Homo sapiens: one gene and its partner. The protein of the gene in region 1 interacts with the protein of each later gene in a biochemical or structural test. Each region holds a gene or a part of one and is shown on either strand. Other genes may lie near its edges. The genes, in order: IBTK and PDCD4.

Region 1 (12,899 bases):
CATGAAGCACATAAAATGGAACATCATAATCTTTGTTCCAACTCTGCAAAATATAGCCTATTTCAAAAGAATTAAACAGTCCAGATGATAATATGTCAATTAACAGTTTTAGACTTTATCAACCATTGTAGGCATATAAACATGAAGCACAAGCTTAATTAACATTTTGAAAGAATACTACATTCTAATTACATCTGCTACTCATTTAACTTTTCTTTTTCTTTTTTTTGAGATGGAGTCTTGCTCTGTTGCCCAGGCTGGAGTGCAGTGGCGCGATCTGGGCTCACTGTAACCTCCGCCTCCCGGGTTCAAACGATTCTCCCACCTCAGCCTCCCAAGTAGCTCGGATTACAAGTGCGTACCACCACGCCTGGCTAATTTTTTGTATTTTAGTAGAGATGGGGTTTCACCATGTTGCCCAGGCTAGTGTCGAACTCCTGAGCTCAGGTAATCCACCCACCTCAGCCTCCCAAAGTGCTAGGATTACAGGCATGAGCCACCATGCCCAGCCTTCATTTGACTTTTCTAAATAAATGAAAAAATATATATATAATATAGGCAAGTTAAAAGGATAGTATAACATTAAATTAATATCCTCTGAAAATTAACTGAATAGTTACACATTTTGTGAAATTTTAAATACCCCTTCACATGCTCTAAGAGATAAAGTCTATGATTGACAAAATTGTCTTCCTGTGCAGCATTTTTAACCAATACATATTATCTAAGAAATAACTACTGATACTAAGTTTCTCTCTATATACGTAAAACATAGTATTTGCTACTATTCACTGATGATAATACAAAGGCAACTAAATTTTGCCTGGGGTTGGTTGGGGGGGAAGCCTATTATAGCTGGTTAGCAATTTGTAGGTATTTAGGCAATTTTCTGTGCATTAGAAATTTATATTAATATTTCTTAAATGTTCATCATTAAAAAATTAAATTGCATTAAAAATGAATGACATTTCTCAAACTAACAGTTATAGAATAAAATAAAAATCCTACCTGAAAGAACCAGCAACCCAACTGGCAGAGCTGGTAGTATCAATTCTGTTACTGGGAATAGGCTGTGGAGCAGATATTTTAAGTATTGGTGACTTTTCCCATGGTTTTAAATCTTCCCTAGAATACACAGGAGATGTACCATTAACATACGGTTTGACTTTCGCCTGGGGAGAGAAAAAAAATAAAAAAAGTTAACAGGCACCTAGAACAGTAACTAACACATAGCTGGTACTTAATAAATATTAGTTACATTATAATGAAGAATAAAATCTTATGACAATAAGCCATCTAGTATTTTCAAATCATGTTCTTCTACAGTTTTGTGCCTTAGCCAACTCTCAAATCACATTATTGACTATAACTGAATTATTATGAGCTTTGAAAATAATTTTTAGGGAAACTAGTTTGCATATTAAATCTCTACACAAATAGTTAACATGTAATATATAAAAGTTGTACAAATAAGACATGAAGCAGTAATTTTAAAATTAATATCCATGGCTTGAATATGAAACAAAATGAAAGTTTTGTATAAATGTCATATAATTCACTCTGATGTAAAGTACTGTGAATAAAATTAAAGTCAAATAATACTGACACCTTGAAAGGAACCCTAAAACTACTGCTATTGTAATATGTCAAGGAAGTTATTAAAATGATATGTCTATTTCCAGGATAGATTCTTCTGTTATTGTAAATCACTCACAATATACCCTGAGCCTTCCTTTAAACCTCAATTGTCTTACAGACCAACCTTAGTGTGAATATAAATTGCCCCCAAACTTCTATCCTATATTTTAAAAAAAATCAATCCTGGCGGGGTGTGGTTGCTCACATCTGTAATGCCAGGACTCTAGGAGGCTGAAGTGGGTGGATTGCTTGAGTCCAGGAGTTCGAGACCAGCCTGAGCAACACGGCAAAACCCCATCTCTACTAAAAATATAAAAAAATTAGCTGGACGTGATGGTGCGTGCTTATAATCCCAGTTACTCTGCCGGCTTAGGTGGGAGAATCACCTAAGCCCGGGAAATCAAAGCTGCAGTGAGCTGATACTATACCACTGCACTCCAGCCTAGGCAACCAGAGTGAGAGACCCTGTCTCAAAAAAAAAAATCAAATCAATCCTTGAGGCCTAAAAGACTCTAAGAAGAAAGGGTAAACTTCTGTTGTCTTATGAATTCCTAGAAGTTCCGATACGTTTTGTGGATGTGTAGGAGTTACAGAAAAGTGACTCTATCTCTATTCAGTTACACATTTTTCTCTAATAGGTTAACAGCTATGGAATCAAATGTTAAGGAGTGTCTAAGAAATGCCCTCCCCAGAGCTGATTAGGCTAGGAATCCTGCAGCTTAATGTGCTAGATTAGGAGAAGAACTCAAATCATTTCCAAATTGTTTTGCTCCAGTTAATACCCTGGAGGAAAGAGACTGCGAACTTTCAAAGTAGGCTTATTTTCGAAATCATTTGCCTTGACAATTTTTAACTGATGTTAACTGACATTTCACAAGATAAATTTCAATAATTTAGCTACAAATATATTTTTTCAACATGTCTATAGTGTTATTATATTTTACATCAACATTATATTTTAGTTGCACAAAGACTAGAAATAACATCATAAAGGGCTCAAAACTGCCATTACAATCTCTAAAAATAGAAATGTTGTGCAAATTTAAGAAAACTAACACTATATTTGTGATTCTTATATACCAACCTGGAAACTGTTTTAAAATTAGGGCAAAAATAAGGAAATATTAAAGATAAACCATCTATAAATCTAAAATCTGAAGGTAAGGAGGTAGTGCTTCAAAAAACAAACCTCAATCTTATCTGAATGAAATCCTGTTGTGAAATCAGGGGACTGTAAATCTCTAGGACTACCCACTCCTGCATAGCTTCCTTCAGAGTCTGATGTCAACAGTTCTGGAAGAGATTCCACAGAATTGGTCTTACCAGACTTTAATAATCCTAAAACATGAAATTAAAAAAAATTAAACACATATGCATTAAACATATATGCATTACATTCCATGAACCAGAGAGCTAAAAAAGCTTTCATTTATCCAGATTTAATAACATTCAAATTATATTTATGGTATAAAAATCTTAATAATTCAAGTTAACTGGAGAAAGAAATCAGTTTAAGTGAAAAACTGAAATGGAAGAGATTCTAAAACAATAATTTTATTCATTACAATCACACACCAATTGTGTAATGAACCTGAGGAAGATAGTTCTTTGGGATCTGCTCTAAAAAGTGATTTAAAATATTTTTGTCCGCATAAGAGACAAAGGAGAAAGGGAAAATAATTAAAATCCAGACCTCTTTTCCCTTTCTCATCTGTCTCTTGGTACAGTGGTCTCCGCACCCAAGCAAGGGGGTAGCTTCATTCTATGTGGGAGGAACCCTGTGGCCTTTTTGCCTCTCACTTAGCCAGCTGACTGACCCCATAGCAGAGGCTCCCGCAGAAGACAACTGTGGCCTGTTTGAAGTGTGTTTTTCCCTGAAATCTCTGGCTATTGAGAGCTCGCTTGAAGCAAGAGGGTTGTTGTGAAATGTATATATCATTTCTTCTCTTAGGCAAGCTAAATGCCTGGCCTCATGCCACACCTGGTATCCAGGTTCAAACTTTTGCTTAGATTCACATGTCCATTTCCACACATTTCAAATTTATTAGAATCTAAATGAAGTACCAAAATAAGCTATAAAATAAAGATGTTATCTAACTTGTAACTAAAAGCTGTATAATTGATTTAAAAATAAAACCTACCATCTCTTATACATTGTTCTCTTTAAAGTAAATCACCTTAACAAGCTAAATGTTTCTTTTATTGTTATCACTACAATTTGGAAAGAACATTTAAACATTTTTTTTGCCACACAATCTTTTTGAATTTTTTTTTTTTTTTGAGACAGAGTCTTACTCTATTGCCCAGGCTGGAGTGCGGTGGCATGATCTCAGCTCACTGCAACCTCCACCTCCAGGTTCAAGTGTTTCTCCTGCCTCAGCCTTCCAAGTAGCTAGGATTACAGGCATGCACCACCATGCCCGGCTAATTTTTTTTGTATTTTTACTAGAGACAGCGTTTCACCATATTGGCCAGGCTGGTCTGGAGCTCCTGATTTTGTGGTCCGCCCGCCTTGGCCTCCCAAAGTGCTGGGATTACAGGCAGGAGCCACTGCGTCTTGCCTCTTTTTGAATATTTTTAAGGCTGGCAAATTTTCATCGAAGAGAATACATCTAATATTAGAACACTCTCAAAAGTCAGTTAGAAATAAATCCAGAAAAAAAGAGGACAATTAATGTGGCCAACAATTACTTCTGGTCAAAAACAGTTTTGCTGAATGCCGTTTGTCTAACTTTAAGATCGACACAGATGTTAAGCTTTTACGCAACTGTCTTTGATGAAATTGGCCTCATACTCAAATTTTCTTCCTTAACAGGTCTTTTTGGCCTCCAATTAAATCTGACCTTTTAGTTATCTTTGACTACAGATATCCTGGCCACAGAAAGAACAGTACACCAGGAAAATACGGACCTGGAATCAAGAGAACAAATTTTATTTCTTTTGGTCACTACTTCAAATCACTTATGTTTTTTGAGCTTCTTTCCTTAGGTTTAAAGTAAGGGACATAAATTATTTCATTACTAATGTCTCTTCTAGCTCTGAAATTCTAAGATTCTAACACATATGGTAACAATAACATTATTTAAAACAAACCAAATATCTGCTTTTCCATAAGTCATTTAGGTGACTGGAAAGTCATTACTTTCAAGACTGTCTATCCATTATTCATCCTTCCATCAATCCACCCCTGCCTCCTTCTAAACACTAACGGTAATTCATACAACACAGAGAACACAGAGTCACAGAATTTTAAATTTAGAAAAGTCCTAAGATAATAGCTTTCCCATTTACTAGGTCTCCTGATTCCTATTTTCATTGCTTCATAAATAAATTTTAGGCATATTATCTATCCTTTTTTTATCTTTATGTTATCTAAAACTATTCTTGACATTATTCCTTTGAGCTTTAGTGAACATATCAAGCACCTAATTTGAAGCATCTCAGTAAACATAAAAAAAAAATCCTTCTTCTTTGCCCTGCCTAACAAGCTTTTTTTTCCAAAGGGACACAAAACAATGTACTCTTCTATTTTTCAAAGTTGTTTGTATACAGCTGATTGACTATGAAGTACTGTTAGCAGAAACTGTACTAGGTTATGCCTTAGTGCTATAGACAAGAGTAACCTACCATTTCTGAAAGCCATACTGTAGTCTCATTATTTTATAGTCACAATTCATGTTTTATCTAAAGAAACTACTAAAACGTATATAGTTTAATCTAGATCAGATGAATCTAGAATGTGAGACAGTCTATAACACAATTGGACTGACCTTTTGGAAAAGAGAAAACAAAAAACAAAAAAGTACAGCAGTTTTATACTAGTTAGAAGAGACTAAAGAGATACTAATAAGCAAAGATAATATGAACCTTGATAGAATACTAGTTTTTTTGTTAATGTTAAAAAAAAAAGACTATAAAAACATTTGTCAACAATTAGGAAAATGTGGATATGAAGTATAATACTAATTAACACTAATTAATGTCAATTGTCTCAGGTATGATAATGGTATTGTGGTTGTGTAGAAGAGTATTCCCATCTTAAAAGATTCATATTCAAGTATTCGGGGGAAAAGTATCATGTCTACAACTTATTCCAAGTGGAACAATTTTTTTTTAAGTCTCTGTATTGTGTGTGTGTGTGTTTGTGTGTGTGTGTAACACATGGAGGAAAGAGGAGACAGTAAGCAACAAAGAGTCTGCAAGAAAATGCAAATGTGATGAGAAGTTAACAATAAATCTGAATAAAATGTACATAGGTGTTCATGGTATTTTTCTTTCATCTTTTCAGTAAGTTAAATATTCTCAAAAGAAAAAACTGGGGAAAAATATTTTAGAAAAACTACATAACCTGACCTTTACTTTCAAACAGGCTCACATAATGCCTAAATACATTTTATATTCTACTACCAGATTACAACCCCCTTATGCATATGAATGGCATCTTACTTGGAGTACTGACATATTTAAATTGAATCAACATGATAATAGTTATCTCTGTCATGTTTTGCCAACCTCTAAACCCCTATGCCACTGGAAAGAGTAGTCTTTCTAAAAACAAATCTCATCCAGTCACATCCTGTTTTAAATCATCAACAGCCACCCATAGCCTTTAGAATAAAACACAAATTCCTTAGTTTGGCATATAAGAGCCTCCAAAATCTGACCCTATCCAACCTATCTCCTATACTGAACTATATGCACAAGAAATGTGCAACTCTTTCTCTTGCTACTAAGCTTGGGAACACATTGCCCCCTTTGCTTAATATACCTATCTGCCTCCTTTTCTTAGATAACTTCATTCTTCAAGACTCAGCTCAGCATTGCTTTCCTCTAAGAGGACTTCCCTGATCTCAGATTAGTTTGAGTACCTCTTTTGTGCTCCCAGAGCAAACTTCAACTGGAGTACTTACAATAAACTATCACTTTTGGTACCTCCATAAGGACTGTTTATTTCAGTAGCCCCAGCAGATGACATATGTGAATAGAGACATAGAAGATTAGAACTGGAAATACATGCTCACTTTCCACGAACCTGTAGATGATGGACTCTGAATAATATCTGAAAGGTTATAACCTCCAGAACTATCTGAACGTTTACGTGGCTTCTTTTTAGCTTTTGTTTTTGCTTTCTTGAACATAGTTTCCCTAGGAAAAAGCAAACATAATTTCAGCAGTGTTTAGGGAGGTAACTAAGATAAATGCACTTATTTAACCCAACATGTTTAACCTGAAGGCTACTTTTTAAAATATTTACACTTTCAATGTGTTAGACCTACAGATATTAATTATGTATTTACTTTGTATTATACCAAGGTTAAGAATGAGCGTAACTACCTATTTCTTATGTCAGAATTTCTCAATTTCATCTTCCAATACCAACACAAAAGTGTCATATGTCCAAGATGAGAGTGAAGGGACACACTGGAGAAAAGAAGGAAGAAAAGGAGGAAAAGAAAAAAAAAAAAGAAAACAGCTTACGAATGATTTTGTTCCATATTTATTTCTTCTTTCAAGAAGATATCTCCATCTTCTACTTCCAAATAGCTAATATCTGGTCCATCTTGATATGGTGTAATGACTCTTCTATCCATTGCTGGAATCTGCAGAATTGAAGATATCACTTTTCAAATACAAAATCTGTGAAGTTTTTTTTTTTTTTTTTTTTTTTTTTTTGTGCACACGTGGCTCTTGCCATGTTGGCCAGGCTGTTTGGAACACCTGGCCCCAAGCAAACCTCCCATCTTGGCCTCCCAAAATGCTAGGATTACAGGCATAAGCCACCACACCCAGCCTAAAGATGTTTTTTAAATTATGTAAGATATTCCATTTTTAATATGTGGTGACATTAACTAGAACAGCCTTGAATACTCAATAACTTCCTAAATTTACAAGAGGGGGTTAAATTTTGATTCAATTCAATAAAAACTTTATTCCATAAACCTGCCAAAAAGGAAACTTGAGAAAAAGCTCCACTTTATTATTAAAGATAGATTTATTCATTTCTTAGGGATCATATGAATTCATGTTTTTGCACGGTCCTGACCTCTGGTAAATAACAAAAGACTTACTCTGAGGCTTTCAGTAACTTTCATTTATAAAGAAATTAATAAATATTAACTTTATTATTAAGTATCTTGAATTCTGATTATCATATGTATCTGTGAGATCTGTAAAGGAATCCTATATCATCAGTTTTAAAAGATCCTAATGTACTAGAAGTCATTAGGAAACTATTCCATTAATAAGTCTGATCTAATATACTGCTTAAGCTGGTAATATTATAGCCGCGAAAATCTTAAAACATAAACCTTACCATTTTCCGGTAAAACTCAGAAAGATCCTTCAAAACACCATCGCTTAAAACATCAAGAGACCTAAAATATAGGATACAAAATTCTATCTTAAGATTCAAGTGACTTGATAACTGTCAAGTTGCTTACATACGTAGATATTTCATATTGCTAGATAAGTAACAAAGTTATTTTTTAAGCATTATATATAGCAGTTGCTACAAATTCCTTTTGGAAATAGATGTGGTTGTATATTACATATTTCAAATAAACAGCAAAGCAAACATATTACACAAATATCTTGAATAAAACTCAAGCAACTCTTTTTTTTTTTCTTTTTTTGAGATGGAGTCTCACTCTGTCACCCAGGCTGGAGTGCAGTGGTGCAATCTCAGCTCACTGCAACTGCTGCCTCCTGGGTTCAAGTGATTCTCCTGCTTCACACCCTCCCAAGTGGCTGAGACTACCAGGCACACACAATCACGCTCGGCTAATTTTTGTATTTTTATTAGAGATAGGGTTTCACCATCTTGGCCAGGCCGGTCTTGAACTCCTGACCTCAGGCGATCCACCTGCCTCAGCCTCCCAAAGTGCTGGGATTACAAGCATAAGCCACCACACCCGGCCTCAAGCAACTATTATAAATAAATGTACAAAGAATCTTCTCTACTTCATAAGAGTTTCATAAAAATTAACTAAATGAATCTATGTAATGCTTTTAGAACACCGTCTAGCACATAGTTAATAGTCATTACTACTGAAGTAAAATATAAAAATAAACTAAACAATGAAGCTTTAAAATAAAAACTGACACCAGGAACTCTAATCTCAAATTTCTGTGTTCTCATATTGTCACCAATGACTTTATAGGAAGTAAAATATTTTGACCTTATATTTTTAAAAAAGTATACATTTATTTCATTTTAAAAAGATCACTGTTAAAAACATTCAAAAGTTTTCAAGAGCTCTCTAATTCTAAAATGTACATAACTTCTAAATCATCAGCATTGATCAAATTCTTTCCATCCAGGTAAACATCATTATTCACATTTAAATCACTAATAATATCTGCTATTATATATAAATATCTCCTTTTGCAACAATCTTACAACATATGCACCTCACCTACCTTGCTTCAAGTAAAGCTGCCATATTCAATCCTATAAACTGTAAACAAGACAGTTTCAACTGTTTTGCACTATACATTGCTGCAAATTCCAGTAGCATAGCAGCATTCTTCAGGGTAACTACAAAGAAAGAAAAGATTTGCAAAATTAGATAAAAGGCACATTACCACAGCAAAATAAAATACATTTATGTCTAAAGCTGTACGATTTGAACATTTGGAATAAAGAAAAAAAAGTTTCTTGCCAAAAATAAGTTAATACTGGGGCAAATATGTAACTCTTCCATCCCAATATGCCAAAGTAATTTCAAAAGATTGGCTATGAGGAAAAATAAGCTCACACACAAGCATATTCTAAGCAAAACAGAATACAGAAGGGGCATAGTGCCACCCAAAAGCAAACACATAAGAACTGACAATCTTCCACCTAACATTTTCTGAATATTTTTAAAAAGCTTTTATTAATGAACAACTTTCCTTTCCATTTACATAGCAGTTATTCCCTCTTCCATAAAACTAAAAAAGATATAAAACTAAGAAAAACTGATGAAATAATTCTATAAAATATATTGAGTTATCTATCAGAATTCATGTGGGTGTATATATATACATGTAAGTATATAAATATATACATATTTTGAAAATACGTACATCACAATCTTATCATAATATTCTTCACACCAGTGAAAAATCTGATATACTGTGCAAAAGATTCTGGATTTAGTTACAATTGTAGTAACATTATATATAAAGTACCCATTTTCCTAGAGACTCTCCCAGAATATTCTACCTACATAACAGGTAACTTTCAGCTTCCTGTTCCCTCCACTATTTTTCTTAATTACTCTATCAGTACCAGCCAATAGGGAAACACAGTTGTTTTCTACATCTGGCTTCTTGCATTTCTTTTTCTTTCTCACCTGTGATTCTATCAAAAGTTGCAACTGCAGTCAATAATGGTCTCTGTCTCACTCCTGACTAATCTACATTTTCAACTAATGATGAACAGAGAAATTGAAGAAATGATAAAATTAGATCATATAAAAACTTCTTTAGAGTTGTTCACATGGGAACAAGTATCCACATATTCCTAATAATCAGAGACCAAAGGAGGTGGTAGCCTCCTTTTCCTAGGTTCTAGGAACATCAAGGAATTAATAAAGGCAACTGTGCAGCCAGAGCCATGAAAGAACACTGAGGAAGAAGACCAGCAAAGGCAACTGTACAAGTGTAAAATATCACTTATATGTATGTCTTATACCTGTTGTATGCTGTGTCCTTTATTTTAGAATATTTTTCTTTTCTTGCTTAAAAGGAGATCAGGGCTGTTGTTCTCTATTTAATAACCAAGGAGTAGACAGTCTACAGTGCTCAAGAAAAGTGAGAACTAAAATGCCAAAGCCAAGACAAACTCCTAGCAAGTATGAACTAGAAAAAATGGACAGGAATTCCCTTCACACTTCTTGAAGTAGCAGTAAAGCAGAACAGATATAAGATTAGAAAGTCAAAAAGGCTGTCAGGTGGAAGCTAAGGAAAGTTAACCTTTATTCTAGAGTAAGCAATTATAAATATGTAAACAGGGGGAAGATGTAACTACTTCCTACAGAAAGCTTAAAGAAACAGAAGTAGACAGGAGAAAGAGCATTTAAAACACTACTGTGACACTACCCAGAAGGAACAGATAACAGTGACCTCAACTGCATAGTAACAGTGAGAACCCAAAGGTAGGGGAAATGTGACCAACATAGTTAAAAGGAATAAGTTTTGACAACTGAATGAATTTGAGTGTCAGGGCCAAAATAATAAAGAAAAACTCATTTTGGATTTCAAAGTACAGTGTTCAGGAGGATAGCCATGAAATTAACTAAGATAATGAAGAGAGCAAGAAAGAAGAGTTCAAGAAAAAAAGAGATGTGCTTTGTTCAGATATATAATGGGAAAGTTAAATTTTTAAAATCACTGCAAATAGTAGAAAATGGGTAGCTAAAAACACCTAAAGCCAAGATCAGGGCAAGAGTACAAAAATTTCACTTTTAAACTCTCACCCTTGAAATTAGCAAATAAATCTGACACCATCTTTATTCTTCAAGGTTTTATGACATTTCAATACAAATATTACATTTCAATTCTAAGTCATATATATTTTCACATATTTCTAAAATAAGAATTCACTTACAAATGATGGCATGTAATAATTTACATATTTTGGCAGGTTTTCGTGGTACCAAAAAAATGGTCTATTTTACCATAAGTGGAATCATAAAGTCAATAAAGTACAGTAATCCTTGATGAACCTGAAAACATATTAATATTCAAACTCAAAATTACTCACGTTTTTCAGTTAATGCTACTTCACAAATCTCTTTCAACCGGGTTATGAGAAGTTGATCAGCCACCACAAGAACACTACAAATAAAATCTACATTTTGAGATTCTAAAAAAAGAAAGAAAACAAGCATCACTTTTTCTTTGTATACATTATACCTAGAAAAAAAAATTTGAAGTAATTAGTACACTAGAAAAGAGATTTAAGTAAAAAAAAAATTTGAAGTAATTAGTACACTAGAAAAGAGATTTAAGATTATTTTCTAAATGTTGAAAGGGCAACCATAATAAAAAGTAAATACATCAAAATATATTTCTATTTTTTAGGTAGAAAGCTGACAAAATTACACCAAAATGTCTTGATCTCACACTAGGACCATAAAATGGCCAACTTAAATTGATCATTTCAGTCTAGAAGCCCACTAGAATGCCTGACTTGTTTATAATCTCCCATGTTGTTAGAAAAACACTTCTCAAGCTAATACAAAGAGGGAAAAGTCAAATCTCAGCATCACACTTAATATATAAAGGGTGGGGAAATAATGCTCTTATGCTTTCTTATTTAAAACAAAATTTGTCATCTAAGAGTGCTTTTTTGTAACTATTGGACTTCCTTAATTTAAAACAACTTTCTTGGGCCAGGTGTGGTGGCTCACGCCTGTAATCCCAGCACTATGGGAGGTGGAGGCAGACCGACCACTTAAGACCAGGAGTTTGAGACCAGCCTGGCCAACATGGTGAACATATCTCTACTAAAAATACACACATTAGCAGGGCGTGGTGGCACATGCCTGTAGTCCCAGTTACCGGGGAGGCTGAGGCACGAGAATTGCTTGAACATGGGAGGCAGAGGTTGCAATGAGACGAGATCACGCCACTGCACTCCAGCCTGGGCAACAGAGTGAGACTCCATCTCAAAAAAATAAAAAATAAAACAACTTTCTTGGTCCTCAGTACTACTAATGGCTTTTTGCCCCTGAGCCACTGCCAAAATAACAACATAAATTGAAAGAAAAAAATAACAGAGGAAGAGAGGAAAGGGAAAAAAAGATTAAGAAGAAAAAAATCTGACACAGAAAACAGCTTTAAAATATGAGACAAAGATGAAGTCACTAGGAATGACAGACTAAGAGCTTCTAATCCTCTCCTCTAAAAAAAAACAGACAACTGTGGAAAATTGTCATAATCAACTTTTCCAGAATTCTGGAAATCAGCCAAAAGCTTATAATAATCTAGGAAGTGTTTACTTAAGAAAAGCAGTTGAATCTTGTTAAGAACAGTGGGATTCAGGACACTGCAGCCTTTCCTGTTCAGATCTTCCTCTCCCCTCCTCCACAGCAGTACTGAAACCAACAGCTCCATAATCACAGGGAATCACATTGACAGCCTAGTAGCCACAGGAGACAGAACAGTTGTAGAGCAATAGTATCCTTATTTGACCTGTCTGCTAGTTCTCTGAAAATCCCACTAGAATGCTTATCTTTATTTGACCTGACATAAAGCTTGCCCAGTGACAACAG
Region 2 (12,899 bases), on another chromosome or scaffold:
TGAATTACTGAAGCATTTTCTTAGCGGTTTCCTACTTTATACTTTCTCTTTTTGTAATATACTCAGTATTCTTCTGCCAAATGAATCCCTCCCATCTCTTCCCTATGATATCTAACTTAAGCTCTGACAATTTGAGTGTGGGAGTAGTTAGCAGTGATTCTGGTGAGGTAAGCAGGGGCAAGATCATAAAGGACCTTAAGTTACAAGGTAAAGAGTTTACATTTTGGCTGGGTGCGGTGGCTCACGCCTGTAATCCCAGCACTTTGGGAGGCCGACGTAGGTGGATCACGAGGTCAGGAGATCAAGACCATCCTGGCTAACACGGTGACCCCATCTGTACTAAAAACACAAAAAAATTAGCCAGGCGTAGTGGCAGGCATCTGTAGTCCCAGCTGGGGCAGGAGAATGGCGTGAACCCGGGAGGCAGAGCTTGCAGTGAGCTGAGATTGCACCACTGCACTCCAGCCTGGGTGACAGAGCGACACGCTGTCTCAAAAAAAAAAAAAAAAAAGTTTACATTTTTTGTGACATAATGGGACTACTTTTAAAGGATCTTCAGTGAGGGCATGCTTGAGAAAATCAGTCTTCATTCAGTATAGTTTGAAGACTGGAGGCAGGGAGACTACTTATGAGACTAGTGAAATAATTTGGCTCTAATTGATGATTTTGTTTAAAACAAAACATTCCTACCTTCCTAAGTATGTCAAGAATTGTAAAGATTTAAACACATGTATGCTTTTTATAGGTTGGTGAAAATTTTTGGTTTCAACATGTCTTAAAACATATTAAAGCCCATGCACATAGACCTGACATGTTATAATTATCTTTAGGCATATAGAAAATGATTTGAGTGATTCAGCTCTGATTTGCGTTAACAATAATGAACAAAACTGTGGCCCAGTGGTAGCTAATTCAGTAGCCTTTCTGACTTAAAGAGCTTTCAGGGCAAAGCCAAGTGCCTCCACTTGATCTCCATGGAATTTGAGTATGAAGGACACTCTGCTAGGTGATGGGGATACAAAGAAGGACATACAGTCTAGTTGTGGTTTCTCCTTTGAAGCTTATGACTTAGTTGGAAGAAAAAGACTGCTATATAAAAAGAAAGTGATTTCCATGACGTGTTGAATGAATAGTATGTGAGCAATTAGTGTTCCTGTACCTAGAGTTGTAAGGGAAGTTTTAATGCAGGGAGTAAGACTTGGGCTATATCCTAAAGGATTTTGATAACTGAAAATAACAGTGAGGGCGACATTCTACTGGGAACTCCAGTATGTTGATCTCTTTCAGAAGAATCAATTTTATATAGGCTGGAAGATTTACAGGATGGTAAGTAATAGGAGAAAAGTTTAGGGAGATGAATTAGGACTTTGAGATGTTGGCTTTTCTTGAAAGCAAACTTTGTCTTGAGGCAGTAAAGCATCAGCAGTTCAGCTCAACAATCATATGCGATTATTTGCTAAATGCCTTTCATTCTCTTTTGGATTACTAATAGTTCTTAAGTGTTTATACCTAGTTATGGGACGTTTGGCAAATCATTTAAACATTCTCAGCCTTAGTTTCCTTATCTGTCTTCAATGTTATAATAATTAACTGCCAAACTTGTGCATAAATAAATGATAGAGTGTCTAGCACAGTGCCTAATAGTAGGCATTCTATAAATATTAGTTTATCTCTCTTCTCAAGATGCTTTGTCTTTTCTTAATATCTCCAATTAGCTCATAAAAGTCTAAGGGTTTTATATTTGGTGTTGCTGTTAGCATAGATTTTATGATCTAAACGTGAAATAACATGCTTCTTTTGGTAAAAACAAACAAATTTGGTTTGTTTTTGGTAAGAAACAAACATGCTTTGTTAAAATTCAGTGCCTTGGTTTACTTTCCTTGATAATGTGAAAAGTAATCTTATTTAGTTGTTTATTAGATTGAAGTAGATGAAATTCCCAATATGTGACTGTAATTTACCTACAAAAATGGTAATGTCATGTGATTCAACCTAATCTAACTTACCACTATATCTATAAAACAGTAGATACTTAAAATACTTAGAATTTTTTTCTTCATTTTTCTCTTTAAGATCCTGATAACTTAAGTGACTCTCTCTTTTCCGGTGATGAAGAAAATGCTGGGACTGAGGAAATAAAGAATGAAATAAATGGAAATTGGATTTCAGCATCCTCCATTAACGAAGCTAGAATTAATGCCAAGGCAAAAAGGCGACTAAGGAAAAACTCATCCCGGGACTCTGGCAGAGGCGATTCGGTCAGCGACAGTGGGAGTGACGCCCTTAGAAGTGGATTAACTGTGCCAACCAGTCCAAAGGGAAGGTTGCTGGATAGGCGATCCAGATCTGGGAAAGGAAGGGGACTACCAAAGAAAGGTTGGTATATATCATGTCCAACAAATGGAAGATAAACAAGTGGAAAAAAATTGTCTGGTTCTTGTACTACACTTTCCTTGTTCTAGGAATGAGAGAGATTCAAAAAGTGAAAATGTAAGGCTTTACAGTTTGTATATATTTTTACTTAGTAATAATGTGAGAACCATCTCACTTTTTCTTTAGGTTGATGTTTTTTCTTGTTTGAGTAGATTTAATTTTCTTGAGCAGAATGTTAACGATTTATTTCCAGCAAAATATACACTGATGTTTTTCACTGTTACGAGTTTTACGTATATTCTCTAAGTTTGAAAGGAGTCAGAAATCCATCATACTTATTTAATATAATTATGTCCATTACTACTACTAATAAATATACATTTGATTGATAACGTCTAGATCTGAATTTTAATGTTTTCCTAGATCTCACGGTGAGTTCTCTTTAGCTCTTTATTTTGGGTTCTGTAGTAGATTGGTCTGTTTCACTGCTGTTTCTCTAGTACCCGAAATAGTGACTAGTACACTGTAGGCAAATATTTGTTGAATAAGAGTTTTCTGACGATTTCATCACCTTCTGAATGGTGGGAACTTCAATTTATAGCCTAGGTTTCTTGTAAAATGTTTTTGTGATCTGTCAAAAATTAGTTTTGTTAAATGCCTCTGCAATCATGTTTTATATCAAAATGAAACCTGGTTGTCAGATTCTGTTTTGGTCTGATGGCAAGGATATACTTGGTACAAAATAAAAACCTCCAAAAACAGAAATGTTGGTGACATTGTAAAGGTTCTTTAAAAAATAGTGTAGTACATTAGTCCTTAAAACATTTCAGTAAGTTGATGTAGAAAAGCAACTTTGAAAATTGGAATTGTTAAGCTTCTTTTGGTTGTTTTGTATTTAGAAAACAGAATTTTCAGGGCTGTTAATGCTTAAAAGCAGTTAGAATTCTTTTCTATATTTATAACATATTGCTAGTTGTATGGTTTAATGTGTACTTTAATATTTAAAGAGTACTGTATTTGACCTTAAAATATTTGATGGTGGTTACTGTCCTTTTTTGTTAAATAATTTTTCCCTTGTTGAGTTTTCTATGCTAAGCTTTACCGGCCCAGAATGTTTCTTTTTGTCTTAGTCTCAAAGAAATGTCGAATAAAATTTAGAGCTCAGCTGCAATATCATCTCCTTTGAGGTCCTCAATATAGCTATTTTTTTATCTTTATTTGTTTTTGCTTTTATTTTAAAGCATCTGCTTTTTTAGTTTTTAACTTCATAAGCTATTTTAACTTAATGTTTTTGGAAATATTGAAAGAGTGGTCTGAACAAAAACCAGTAGGGGAAGAAAACTGGAAAAAAACTAACACGTTAAATACAATTTTTTTTTAGCTGTTGTTTAACATCGGAACATTTTATTTTAGATTTCAACAAATTGATGAATTTTGTGTTTTTTCTTTCTCAATGCTAAACTTTTTCAGGTGGTGCAGGAGGCAAAGGTGTCTGGGGTACACCTGGACAGGTGTATGATGTGGAGGAGGTGGATGTGAAAGATCCTAACTATGATGATGACCAGGTATCAGTGCTTTGCTTTTTCATAATATTTAAAATGTTTATGAACTTTTTTGACTTCATGTTTGTAGTTTACTCATACATGTGTCAAATCATATGTATAAATGTTTTGGATTAGGAAACCAAGTAAACTGACAGTAATACATGCATAACTTTCACTTGGTTTCTGTAGTGAGTCAAAAATAGCTCTTTAGAAATTCACTTAGGATTATTAAGTTGTCCATTTTTCAGTAAATTCTGTTAATATAGTTTGTTTCTATAGTAATGATAATTGAGAATATCTTCTTTTGAATATTATGAGTTACAGATATTAGATTCCTTTTAAATATTACTGTTTAGAATGGTAACTATATAATACATTTTGTTTTGGGGACATGCGCATCTTTCTTTTAGGGATAATGCTGAAAATGTAAATTTTTAATAGATTGTGAAGTGAATTTTTTATTTTTTTTAATGGAAAAAATTTAAAGTAGAATAGTATAATCTGCTTGTACTCCTCTCTTAGCTTTACAAACTTAAATAATTACAAACTCATAGGCAGTCTTGTTTAATTCCATTTACTCTCCGTCTTCTATTGGCCCCTTTGCCCCACCCTGTTTTGGATTATTTTGAAGCAAATCCCAAATGTTTTGATTATGTTTTTTGAAAATTTGTCTTTGCACAAGGTGAGACACGGTGATGGAAATTTTAGACAGGAAAACGTTAAGAGTATGTGTTAGGTTGTTTTTATTGTGTGTTGTATGTATGTATTTAAGTGTTTTAACTAATAGATATGGAAATATTTCTAAGAGAACATGAAAAATATGAAACTAGTAGGATTCAAGTACTGTAGAATCTTTGCTAAAAATGTATTAATCTTTCAAGTATATGTTTTTAGGCTGAAGCCAGTCACAAGTTGTAAATATAGCAGTCCCCTCTTATCCGTGGTTTCACTTTCCGCAGTTTCAGTTACCCATGGTCCAATGTGGTTTGAAAATATTGAGTGGAAACTTTCAGAAGTAATTCATAAGTTTTAAATTGCATGCCATTCTGAGTAGTGTGATGAGATCTCCTGCTGTCCAGCTTCATCCACCTCATCCTGCCCAGGATGTGAGCCATTCCGTTGTCCAGCGTGTATCCGCAATGTATACACTACTCGTGCATTCGTCACATGGTAGCTGTCTAGGTTATCGGATTGAGAAAACAGTATTTATTGGGTTCGGTACTATCTGTGGTTTAAGGCATCCTCGGACGGGGCTTGGAACATACCCCTTGTAGATAAGGGGGCACTACATTTCAGAGCTTTTTTAGCATGGGGAGAGAGGAATGGTTTGATGATGGATGTTAATTTTCTTTTTGAAATTTCAATTGAACAGTGCTTTTTTCCTTAGAGATTTTTTTTCTGTCACTACAACATTGATCTTTGTGTTATACTTTTTATTATAATAATGCTAATCGTGAAGGCTTTGGTTCCTGCTTCATTTTTTTTTAAAGTGAAATTTTAATTAAAACACCATTTATGATAGGAAGCCATCATGAAACTTTTTGATTACTAAAAGATTGGTTTTGAGAGAGACATAAAAATTTTGAGAGAAAAAATTAACAGAAGACATGGGGGTTGGGAGCAAATTATGTATTTGCTGTGGTTAATGATTCTAATCTATATATTGGCTTATTGTATTCTGATTTTGTAAAAGAGCAGTGACATATAAATTCTACTATTTTTATTATGATTTATTATTATTATTTTTTAGCTTTGTTGTCCAGGCTGGAGTGCAGTGATGAATTATAGCTCACTGCAGCCTCGAACTCTTGGGCTTAAGAGATCCTTCTGCCTCAGCTTCCTGAGTAGCTAGGACTACAGGGGCAAGCTACCATGTCTGGCTAATTTTTAAAACTTTTTTGTAGAGACAGGGTCTTGCTATGTTTCCCAGGCTAGTATTGAACTCCAGGCCTCAAGTGAACCTCCCGCCTTTGCCTCCCAAAGTGTTGGGATTATAGGTATGAGTCTCCTTGCCTGGCCTAGATTCTATTTTTATATGCGATCAATGTATGTAGCATGTCTTTGTCTTGTGCTAAGTGGGGATTATTAACCACTTAGAATATAAAATTGTACAACAATTTCACTTGTTTATTTGCATTTTGTTTTTTATAACTCTTACTCCCTTTTCCCCTCAAAGGAGAACTGTGTTTATGAAACTGTAGTTTTGCCTTTGGATGAAAGGGCATTTGAGAAGACTTTAACACCAATCATACAGGAATATTTTGAGCATGGAGATACTAATGAAGTTGCGGTAGGTTTAAAGTTGCAAGTATAATTTATTTAATATAGGAGAGAAGACATCTTTTATAAGCAAAATACATCTACAATGATCTTGGGTCACTGAATAAATTTAATCATTTTCTTTTGCATAAGTGAATTTCTAAGAAATGGAATAAAATCTCATTACATTAAAACAGTTATATATTTGGGATGTGATGAGAGCTGTGTGCCATTTTGTTCTCTGAAAAATGACACAATATTTTTATAATTTTTATAATTATAATTTGTAATGTATATGAATTTATAAAATCTGTTTTTATAATTTATAAAATATAATTTTAGCAGTTTGAGGGCACTTCTAGACGCCCCCCGAAACCTCTTCAGGGATCTCAGTTAAGAATGCCTGACATAGTTTCATTTTTTTGACATTTATTTCACGTATGTTCAGAAGTAGGATAAAATCTTTTTGTACTTTGTCCAAAAAAAACCCCACAAATAATAAAGATTTGAAAAAGAATATACAGAAGCCATGAGAATAATCATGATTTGTTCATAAAGTAAATCTAGGATAAAATAAAACCATTGGTCTAGTTAGGATTATCAAATTAAAGTAATACAATTGTAACTCTTTAGAAGACTTTGATCATTTAGATTCTTAAAATTTAGACTGGACTTTTATGATTTGTCTGATACTGTGAGGTTTGATATCTTTGGATTTGTAGGATTTGAATATAAGACAAATATTTGTTCAGTGCATACCATCTGGAGGAATTTGTAATAGGTGATTCTTGCCCTTTTGAAGCCCAGTCAAGTGAAAGAAATGATATGTAAACAGATTATTAAAATACGTGAAACGTTCTGTTATAGAGGAAAAGTTTCCATGAGTCCTATGAGGGCAGGGACTGTTGAAATCTTGTTAATCTACCTAGCATAAGATCAATTGTATACTATGTATCTGTTAACTGAGTACTGTTTGGAAAGCATAAAATAGAGAGTAATAGTAGAGATGATTCTCTGCTGTCTGAAGGATGTTGAGGAGTTCGCCAGTTAAGATAGTTTTCCAGGAAAGAGGAGTATTGTGTTTGAGGGTAGTGGATTAGTTGTTAAAGTGCGGTCAAGGAAGATGAAATGCAGTCAGTGAGAAGAGATTACTAACAAGGACACCAGTTACGTGGCTGTGAAAATAGTTTTGGCACTCTCTTAGTAGTATATCATGATTTAAAGATTCTAAGAAAACTTTCATTAAAGAGGAGGGCACTCTAACTGAATTAGAACTTAGCTTCTAGAGTCAGACTGCCTTTATTCCACTTTCAGTTTGGCTACTCCAGCTGTGTGCCCTCTCTCCTTTGAGTATGATAGGTGTGATAATTTAATACTCAAAGGGCTATTTGAGTATTAAATAAGATAATATAACTAAAGAGGCTATTATAATGCCTGATACATTAGTCAATAAGTATTAGCTGCAGCTATTATATTTCTAAAAGGAAATTTTAAATTTACCCCAGAATCTTAAACCAATAATCCCATTTAAAAACAGTTGTTTAAGATCTCATTTTAAACTTGATACAAAAGTGTGAAGTGAATTTTTATTTCAAGAGAAGTCTTTGAAGAAAAGTAGAATATAAATAGCTTATGATAATCTAAAATGAATTTTTCCACAAATTCTCATAAAACAATATTTATAGTAATAATAGATTGTAAGGCAGGTTAGTTAACTCCTAATACCAATCTCAGCAATATTATGTAGTTTAATGAACTAGCCATGAGCTGCATAATGACGTTTCCATGACAGACTGCATATATACCTTTGGTCTCATATAATACTCTTTTTACTGTATCTTTTCTGTGTTTAGATAGGTAACCACTGTGTTAACAGTTGTCTACAGTATTCAGTATAGTAACATACTATACAGGTTTGTAGCCCGGGAGCAATAGGTTATACCATGTAGCCTACATGTAGGCTCTGCCATTTAGGTTTGTGTAAGTACACTCTATAATGATTGCACACTGATGAAATCACCTAAATGGTGAATTTCTCAGAATGTATCTGTGTCGTGACCCATGACAGTATTTTAAAGGTATTTCACATTTTTGAATTTAGCGATGTTAAGGCAGTTAAAGCTTGACAAAGTGGATCAATGTCTGATTTATGCACAGGGAAAGGTGTGTTTATCCTATCTTCTAAAACATGACTGGGTCTTTTGATTATTTCCAAAGAGTGAGACGTAGAGATATATAGATAAAAGCTCAATTTTTCAAAAATAAAATTTTATTGAACTATAGGTAGTGATACACTTTTAAAATGTTTTTAAATTATTTTTTTGAACAGGAAATGTTAAGAGATTTAAATCTTGGTGAAATGAAAAGTGGAGTACCAGTGTTGGCAGTATCCTTAGCATTGGAGGGGAAGGCTAGTCATAGAGAGATGACATCTAAGCTTCTTTCTGACCTTTGTGGGACAGTAATGAGCACAACTGATGTGGAAAAATCATTTGATAAATTGTTGAAAGATCTACCTGAATTAGCACTGGATACTCCTAGAGCACCACAGGTTTGTATGATTCTTCTTTTTGTTCATTCCCTCCCACTACTATATTCCTAATTGTGGAAATAATGTATACTCCTAGGAAATTTTAGTAGATGGAAGGGGATGGCCAACATTTCCTACGACACCGAAATATTCCGCTAGCATTTTGATGTATTTTTTCCTAGTTCTTTTGTTTTTTAAACATGGTCTTCATCATGCTATAAATTTAATGTTATCTTGTACTTTTCCCCTATGATCTGCATAGTTTTTAGGTAATTTTTTTTTTTTTGCCATATATATAGTCTTTGTTATATGTAGTTGTTTTATTAGCTAAGATTTTTAAAAAATGTAGGTTATGATTGAATGCTTCACTAATGTTTATTATAAGAAGTCATAAATAAGACTCTTCCCTTTTGTAGCTTTGAAAATGTGAAATTGTTGCTATTGTCAAAAGTTTTTAATCAAGGTAAAATCACTTTACTTAAAACATTAATTTAGAAATAGAATATAGGCATGTCAGTTCCTAAATGCTGTTTCTGTTAAACTTAATGACAGACAATACTCGGTATGAGATATTAAGTGGTGATTCTAATGCAGACATTTTTTCCTTTTATACCAATACACATACTTTAAGAAAATGATTACATAAGTTTATATTTATTGTAGAATTTTTGAAAAATAAAAGCCAGAAAGAAGAAAGGCCAGCAAAAACTGCTACTGGTGTTAAGTTTTCCATTCTCCTTTCTGTGGGTATATATCAATGTATGGCTTCTATAAATCCTTAATTTTTTAAAATTAAAAAAATGGAATCATACCATTATGCTATTTTATAAACTTGATTTTTCTCATACCATAAAATATGGTAAATATCTTTCCCTGTGGCCACATAGTATACCATTTTATGTGTATACCATTTAACCATACCTTTATTTTTGGACACCAATTTCCAGTTTTTATAATAAGTAATGCTGTGAACATACTTTCAACTATTTCTATACAACTTTTTTTCTCCACAAGATAAATTCCTTTGATTAGTTTTTGAGAGAACCTAGTCCTTTTTTTTTGTTTTGTTTTAAGAAGAGAGGACGTCACTTGACCTTAAATCATTCGTTTAACCCCAGCACTTTGGGAGGCCGAGGCAGGCGGATCACGAGGTCAGGAGTTCGAGACCAGCCTGGCCAAGATGGTGACACCCCGTCTCTACTAGAAATACAAAAATTAGCCAGGTGTGCGCCTGTAGTCCCAGCCACTCGGGAGGCTGAGGGAGAAGAATCACTTGAACCTGGGAGGTGGAGGTTGCAGTGAACTGAGATCGTGCCACTGCACTCCAGCCTGGGCGACAGAGCGAGACTCTGTCTCAAAAAAAAAAAAAAAAAAAAAAAATTTGATCATATGCTATGTATTCAGGCAGTGTGCAAGGTGTTAGGGATTCATTAGTGAGCAAAACAGATGTGGCCCCCACTCTGGCACTTAACTTGAAGGTTAAGATGTGGGAGTGTATGCCAGGCATAACAGGTACTACATAGGTTTTTTTTTAAAAAAAAATTCCAGCATCTTTTAGGTACTGACTGTGTACTTCAGCTAATCTTCATCATTTATGTATTTAGAAATTGTGACCTATAAAAGTTATTTAACTTTTTTTATAGCTCTTTTTTTTTTCCTTTTTACAGTTGGTGGGCCAGTTTATTGCTAGAGCTGTTGGAGATGGAATTTTATGTAATACCTATATTGATAGTTACAAAGGAACTGTAGATTGTGTGCAGGCTAGGTAAGTAAATCACTTTTCCTACTTAGAATTTCAAAATAGGGGAAAATTCTACAGGATCCTATTGAAATGACACTTGTGTTAATCAGACACTCTGTACATCTGTTTGTCACTTCTCTATATTCTCCACTGTTAAAATGGAGAGACTATTGGCATGATATACCAGGAAGAGGACAGTACTATAATGGAAAAGTTCTGGAGTTTAGCTAAATCATTAATTACCTTCATGTCAAGCCACTCTTCTTTGGGCCTCAGTTTCTTTATTTATGAAACAAAACCATTGGACAGATCTTTAAGTTCTGTTTTCAGGTTCTAGCATTGTGTAATAGTTTAATATTCTAATAAGATGGATAACCTTAAGAAGAGAGGCCTGATTTATAGTTTTATTTTGTATTTATCTACTGTAGAAATCTTAGTCAGAAAGTATCTTTTTCACTCTTGTGATTTAGTATAATTAATATGATATTTGGTATAACTAAATGTGATATTTGGGAGTTATGCTATTTGATTTTTCTTAACTTCTTGGAGACTTGGACTCAGCCATGTCTTAGTTTTCCTCAGGTCTATATATTAACTTAATTTTCTAGGGCTACTTCACATCATAGTGGAATGGTGTCCCTGGGTAGGAAGGCATGGATCTAGGTGAAAGTTAATTATATGTGAAGTGTTTCTTCTCAGTGTAGATCAGTTATTTTGTAATGTGTTTTGATTTTTCTTGAATGAGAAATGAAATAGAGCATGAGAATATTAACATGAGGATCAACTTCTTTTTGCTCCTTTTTGTTTTGAAAAAGTGTTTTGAATTTTATTTTGCTTTTATGTTATGTGAAAGATTTAGGGCATATAGGATTTTGTCAGCTTTATCCCTAATTTAGTAAACTTTAGGTATGTCCAGCTATCAAACTTAAATTTTTTTCTTTCTCTGTAGAGCTGCTCTGGATAAGGCTACCGTGCTTCTGAGTATGTCTAAAGGTGGAAAGCGTAAAGATAGTGTGTGGGGCTCTGGAGGTGGGCAGCAATCTGTCAATCACCTTGTTAAAGAGGTAATGATTGGGTATTGTTTTTAACTTAATTTATATGTATTCCTCTGAGTGAAATAAATTGTGGCTACTAGCTGGTATTTTTATGGACAAAAATTAAGTTCGGTCTTACAGCTGCAATTGGAAAATGAAATAATTTTTTTAATATGTGGCTTTATAACCTTTTATTATAAATTATATGATTAAAAAATGAGTCTGTTAAAATGGCTTTCATGAATAATTATAAGCAAGCCATCTATGAACTTCAAAGGAATGCCTGAAATCTTTTTCTTATAGTATTATTTAATAATTTTCAAATGCTGTTGAAATGAGATTTTCTGTGTTTTAGCTATTCAATAAATACGCTTTTATATGAGCAATTTAAAACTAGATAGTCTTAAATAATGAGTTATGAATTATGAGCACTAGAGCAGATCAGAGTGTTAGATTTTTGTGAGGACATTCACTACCCATATGCATGTTTTAAAAGAAAATTGATTGTAATCCCAGCACTTTGAGAGGCTGAGGCGGGTGGATTGCTTGAGGCCAGGAGTTTGAGACCAGCCTGGTCAACATGGTGAAACCCCGTTTCTACTAAAAATACATAATAATTAGCCAGGCATGGTGGTGCGCACCTGTAATCCCAGCTACTCGGGAGGCTGAGGCACCAGTATTGCTTGAACCCAGGAGGAGGAGGTTGCAGTGAGCTGAGATCACACCACTGCACTCCAGCATGGGTGACAGAGCAAGACTCTGTCTCAAAAAAAAAAAAAAAAAAAAGCGATTTATTGCATTAAAATGCCAGATTTATTCCCTATGGATTTTTTTTTTTTCTGGCTGCAATGTGGTGTCCTATAACAAGAAACCAAAAAACAGAAAAAACTCCTTATCTGCAGATCTCTTTAAGAAAAGGCATGCAACTAGAAGATTTGTAGTTCATGTGCTTCTGATTTTTGAGTATAATCTTTTCATGTAACTACAATTTTGATTTTTAGTAAGTCTTTTAATGAGGTGTGTGTGTGTGTTTGTGTATGTGTATCTAGCTTAAGTGTTAAGGAGTTCAAATTGTAGTTAGAGCCTTGACTGTTTTTGCTTTTATATATGTTAAAATAGATGAGTCAGTGTTTGTAATGTCGTGATTGCAGTATCTGTTTTTTAAAAATTAAACAATTATTAGAAAAATTGAGGTATAAAAATAGTCAAGATGCCAGGGCAATTAGGCAGGAAAGATAAAAGGCATCCAGATTGGAAAGGAGGAGATAAAACTAGTTGTATTCCCAGATAACATGATCTGTATACAGAAAATTTGAATGAATCCACATTTTTTAACTCCCCAAAACTGAAACCAAACTATTAACTAAAAAATGAGTTCAGAAAGGTTGCAAGATAAAAGATCAGTACACAAAATTCAA

The links.
Region 2: the proteins of IBTK (region 1) and PDCD4 form a complex in vitro, tested with the Homo sapiens proteins (one study listed by BioGRID).

What each region holds. Positions count from the first base shown.
Region 1 is NC_000006.12:82,193,471-82,206,369, forward strand, and holds part of IBTK (inhibitor of Bruton tyrosine kinase), read right to left. Parts: intron 11,489-12,899; coding exon 11,387-11,488; intron 9,176-11,386; coding exon 9,058-9,175; intron 8,013-9,057; coding exon 7,952-8,012; intron 7,239-7,951; coding exon 7,117-7,238; intron 6,784-7,116; coding exon 6,671-6,783; intron 2,977-6,670; coding exon 2,828-2,976; intron 1,173-2,827; coding exon 1,009-1,172; intron 1-1,008. UniProt on the Homo sapiens protein: Acts as an inhibitor of BTK tyrosine kinase activity, thereby playing a role in B-cell development. Down-regulates BTK kinase activity, leading to interference with BTK-mediated calcium mobilization and NF-kappa-B-driven transcription.
Region 2 is NC_000010.11:110,879,160-110,892,058, forward strand, and holds part of PDCD4 (programmed cell death protein 4), read left to right. Parts: intron 1-2,073; coding exon 2,074-2,376; intron 2,377-3,843; coding exon 3,844-3,938; intron 3,939-6,093; coding exon 6,094-6,207; intron 6,208-8,505; coding exon 8,506-8,727; intron 8,728-10,373; coding exon 10,374-10,471; intron 10,472-11,396; coding exon 11,397-11,511; intron 11,512-12,899. UniProt on the Homo sapiens protein: Inhibits translation initiation and cap-dependent translation. May excert its function by hindering the interaction between EIF4A1 and EIF4G. Inhibits the helicase activity of EIF4A. Modulates the activation of JUN kinase.